Linked DNA regions of Homo sapiens: region 1 is linked to region 2. Evidence: fine-mapped expression QTL. Tissue or cell type: thyroid. Region 2 holds a variant in brackets; the other region holds the start of a gene. All regions are shown on one strand. Distances are between the middles of the regions.

Region 1 (2,695 bases), 29 kb before region 2:
TAGGTCAAACTTAAAATATGTATGGAGGCAGCTTTAGGCTAAACGTAATTCAATTTAATACTTTCTAATAGATATAAAGTCCTACTGGTGGGTTTTCTTCTTTAGTAAAGAAAAATGTCTTTTTATTCTAACTAATGATTTATGTACTTGGATTTTTTGACCAGATAAATAACAAATAGTATAATTATTTTAGTATTAATGAGCCATGCAAGCTCTGTCTCATTCTACCAAAAAAGACAAATGTATTAAAAGGCAATAATTTTGTTTTCCTGCATAAGACTATCATGAGTTGCTCAAGATTAAGTTAGCTAAAAAGAACTCTTCCATAATAAAAATTAATTGATAATACATTGTCAAAACACTTGTGATCCTGAACTATTAGAGGGGAGTCGATATTAACAACAAAAAAACTACAAATAAACACAAAACTCCCATTATGAAGGAAATTTAAATAATAACAATGTGCAGAGAGTAATAGTTGTATTTTGAATATTAAAATATATAACAAAAACATTTTTCAATAAAAACATGTATTCACGGCTATTTTTTAAAATGTAGGATATCATGCTTTATACTTATTAAATTATTTATTTCAAGCAACATGATCATATACAAATACATTTCATAGACACATGGAAATTTAGCAATTTTTTAAGGACTGCATTCAGTAAGTAGAGGGAGAATAACTGATGTTTTCAAGGTCAAATCTAAAGGAAACTAGCCCACATTTACTTAGCCCAGCATTGAGGAAGCAAAGAATTCTGCTAAGTAGGCTTTGAAGTTTTGCTTTTCAGACCTATGATTCCTAACAATTCTGTATTTCGCCCTTGAAGTAAAAATAATCACCCATTTATCCTTGACTTTATTAAAGATATTAACTTTTATTCAGTTACAGTATCCAGTTTTATTCAATTAGAGTATCCAGTTTAAGAATTATAAAAGAGTAGAATAGAATTATTCTAGGAGAATTATTCTAGGAGAATTACTCATAACCAAACCAGAAGCCAGAAATGATCACAGGAAAACATTTCTCAGGGGATAATTTAATAACATTACTAAAAGTGTGGGAATCCATATACCACCTAAATGATTAGGAAAGAGGTTATTAGCTAAGCCATTGTCTGAAACCCACTGAATCACTGGTCCTTTTTGAACAATGATTGGTCCTTTTTTTCTAAAGATGAGTTTTAAAATTTAAGAGAAGTGCCAAGCAGTAGAGCTGAGAGAGGAAAAGAACACAGATCTCGCATGGTTCAGATTTTTCTTTTTAGGTCCAGGAGTAAGGTAAGATATCAAATCTTTGCTTTTATAGTTTGAAGAACCAAAATCAGTGAAATCTGCAGGATAGACTATCAAGTTCACCCTAAATGCTTGATTAGGTCAATGATTTGAAGCAGGGAAAAAAGTTTCACATCTAGAAGACAAGAGAAATATACTTAAACAGGTTACACCATAAATCAATATCACAGTTCAGTTTTATAATCTATTGCCATAAATTACAAAAACATTGACTCAGTTGCTTAGTTCTAGTATATTATTCTGTTATTAGACTACTAAGTGGAAATTATCTGGTATTGGACTGGTATTGTCAAATCTCTATTGAAGTACTTTTCAACATAGACATTAAAATTGCTGCAGTAATAAGTCCCTAGTTGGTTAGCCTTAGTCATGACCTCCCATGGTCTGATGGGCCTGCTCCTCTCCTTGTAGGGCAGCACTAGGAGGAGATCATCTTGTTCTTTAATGCATTCAACCACATCATATGTCTCCAAATGAGTATTTTGTTCAAGCTAAAAGGACAAGCAAACAATCTTGGTTTTTATAAACAGCTTGTCTGAGAGAAAATAAAGAGTTATATCAGAAATTTACAAACATAACTTTTTAAATTTTAAATTGCAAAATGTAAGTAAATACTATAGAATTCACCCAGCTATTCCTTTGATTGAACAATACTAATTATTTTGTCATGAATTTTAAGTAATGTCTTTATAAAGCTAAAGATCACAACTTATTTTCTAGATATATCATACGAAAATGAAAATTATAATTCTTCTTGGATTCCTGGGAGCCACATTGTCAGCCCCAGTAAGTGATTTTATGGCACTACTAGTCCCACTGTGTTAAACCTTCAACAATCCCTTCTTTTTACTATTTCTGATTTTTTTTTCATTTTTACTTTTAGCTTATCCCACAGCGTCTCATGTCTGCCAGCAATAGCAATGAGGTTAGTTTAAATAATTAAAACAATCTCCTCCTTTTTTTAATGGAAATCAAGTGGGAAGAGATAGAAGTCGTCATTTAATTTATACTGTGTTCCTCACCACTAGCTTTTATGTATATCCAAGCACATTTCTAATGTCCATGTTTGATTATATAACAGGTTACCTCTAAAATATTATTCTGCTTCCCTTGATTGATTGTTAATTCTTCAAAGGCGGATACAATATTGTTTATATCTTTTTGTTCTAATAACACCTCACACAGGTGTATATAGGTGTTTAAAAACATAAAATGACTAAACCACTGGAATGTGCTAACGTTGTGCAATCTCATACCCAACAGAGGAGAGGTTGTTAAATCCCAACCTTGTTTTAAATCTAACTTCTAATCACTGTAATTTAATGTAAGCCTAGTGAGAAAATGTCCCACTTCTAACAAGAAATTGAGCAACCAGCTATGACTTGTGCTATATTTG
Region 2 (2,695 bases):
AATGAATTTTGTGGGTCACTAGAATTTAAGAGATATAAATTAGAAGAGAATGAAAGACACGTAAAAAACTAGTTTAGAACATAAATTTAAAAAAATGAAAATTTCAGTATGTTCCTCATGTAAACAATGTAAAAAATATTTTATTAAATCCTTGTCTCAGTTGTGTGTGTGTGTGTGTAGACTGAGTTATGATATATAATGCATTTTTTACTGTGGCTTTTATTTTAAAATTTTTGAAAGCCACATTAAGGATCATTATAGCATTACTGTGGAAGATAGCTTGAAGACAAAAATACTGCGGACAGGGACTCTATATAAGAGGCTACTGTAACACTCTAGTAAAGAATGAGAAACTAAACTAAGGAAAAGACAAAAAAGATGGAAGATATTTATTCCAGAGCATTATAAGAAGGAAAAAGTTAATGACCATTTGATGTGGAAGAGAAAGCACAAGAAAAAAATAGGATGAGTCTTAGATTGATTGCTTGGATAACTGAGTGATTGATGGTCATCAGCTGAAAGATTAAATAAAAGTGAGGAGCATATTAAGAGGGAAAAAGAGTAAGCTAGGTTTTGAATAGGTTGGGTTTGATGCTTATTCAGTTGGATACAAGATTCTGGGTAATTAGAGAAGAGTTTTAGCTGAAGGCATAGCTTAAGGAGTCAGAAGTAGATTACTTTATAAGAGAAAGTGAAGACTAAGAAGATAAATTGTCAAGTATAATAAATCAGAGAAAAAGAATCAGAAAATAAGACTTATGGTTTCTATTAAAAGAAAAAGAACATGAAAAATTGGCTTACAGAAGCCAAGGAAGAGAAAAATAGATTTCCAGATGGGCATAGTCACAGTTAAATGTCAAAAGAATTGAAGTAACACAAGGACAGAAAATCATTTATGGTTTTCACAATTCAGTGGCAATTGCCAACCTCCATTAGAGCTATTTCAGATAAAAGAAATTGAAGTAGAATAAATTGAACGACAGGTTTTAGGTAAGGAAATGGATAATACACACACACACACACACACACACACACACACACACACACACCTGTCATCCCCATCCCTGGGGAAATGTACTATGAGCCCCAAATTGGTCAAAATATGTACAATAACATAACAGGTTTAATATATTAAGTTTCTGATTCAGGCAGTTTTCTTTAAATCATTGAGATAAGATTAAACGTTGAGTTATAGGTGAAGGAAGTAGTTTAATGTTTCTCTGGCTTTGTGCTGATTTTTCTAACCTTCTGTTAACAGTGACAGTATAAGGCACCAGTTATAAATGTGGGTTTTAGAACCAAATTGCTGGTGCTCAATTCAATATCTGCCAGAGACTAGCTGTAATACCCAGACTGATTACTAATATTCTCTGCTTCTCAGTCTCAAAATGGGATGGTGTTGATCATAGTACTTTCCTCTTAAGGTGGTTGTTTGGGAGATTTAATTATATTATATATATAAAGCATTTAAATTTGTGCTTCAGCACTTAAAGTCCTCAAAAAAACTTACCTGCTATTATTTTTCTGAGTTGCCTTGAGAACTGAATTCTAGAAAAAATAAAAAGAAGAAAAGGGACTTTGATGCACTACTACTACAATCTGGACTATATAACCTCTTTTGAAGTAGAAAT[C/T]GAACTCAATAACAGAATATTCTTAAAAGCTCTCGAATTAGTTAAAGCTCAAATTTTATGACTCTTGAAAAAGGCATATACAATATGCACGCATATTTAAGGTAATTCTTGAATGTTTTGTGGGCCCTAGTTTCTGTTCCCGCACTTAATAATGATACCTTTTCTGCTGTAAGTGAATTTTTAGTTGAGAAATAGAGTATAGTGTTCCATAAGGTAAACAAGATGCTGTGGTGCTCCAAAAATACAATTCACTCATCTACGAAGCTCTAATCCTGATAATAAAATGAAGAAGTTGAAAGAAGAATCATGCAAAAGATTTTAATCCCATCTTAAACAATTTTTAGATTTTTTATTTTCTTAAGATTCCAGCACTATCAAATATGCTTTGCAATAGGTTATAATCAATACCAGTAAAATGCTTAGAGGTATTTTAAATTGTGGGAAGTAAAGGAAAAAATTGTGAGAGTAGACAATGGAGCAACAACATGTAAAGTGATAAACTTCAAATATACAAGACACAAAATTTGGAGAAAAAAACCACAAAAGATTTTGGTATTTGGTAGTTTCTAGGAAACTAAACATTGGTTATTCCCCAATTTCAACATATTGAGATAGTTGATGAGTAATAACTGATCCTAGGGGAGAGGCCTTTAAGCCACAGATTTCTCCATTCCATTATACCTTTGAGTATATAAAACAGCTACAATATTCCAGGGCCAGTCACTTGCCATTTCTCATAACAGCGTCAGAGAGAAAGAACTGACTGAAACGTTTGAGGTAAGAAAGGTCTTAAATATCATTGTAAACTAAGATTGTATATCTATTTTGTAAATATAGATATATAGCATCTCTCCATATATTTTTCTTTAAATCATAAAAATTTTAATTGTTGAGACTAAATTGTAATGGTTGCTTGAATTTGTAGACTTAGTAATTAGAAAACCATTTTTAGTATTCTGTTTGCAAAACTTTTTTTAAAATCACCACCCTGCTGTAGTAAATATTTATTTTAGAGTGACCATAAATGAATCTTTCTAGGAGTGGAGCACTGGTGGGGGAGAGTG

Direction of the effects. Alleles are on the strand shown, and positions count from the first base shown. SD is a standard deviation of normalised expression in the study named.
As copies of T replace C in region 2, the expression in thyroid of the gene that starts at base 1,216 in region 1 goes down (small effect, 0.30 SD a copy in GTEx).

What was found. PIP is the estimated chance that this variant, and not a neighbour inherited with it, causes the effect.
Region 1: ODAM starts here. The variant in region 2 is fine-mapped to the expression of ODAM in thyroid (GTEx, PIP 0.97).

What each region holds. Positions count from the first base shown.
Region 1 is chr4:70,194,510-70,197,204 of GRCh38, forward strand. It overlaps ODAM (odontogenic, ameloblast associated), which reads left to right and starts at 1,216. Exons shown (of 12, transcript NM_017855.4): 1 at 1,216-1,284; 2 at 2,020-2,085; 3 at 2,183-2,224. The coding sequence starts at 2,035.
Region 2 is chr4:70,223,775-70,226,469 of GRCh38, forward strand. It overlaps FDCSP (follicular dendritic cell secreted protein), which reads left to right and starts at 2,350. Exons shown (of 5, transcript NM_152997.4): 1 at 2,350-2,408. The variant C/T (reference allele first, on the strand shown) is at 1,632.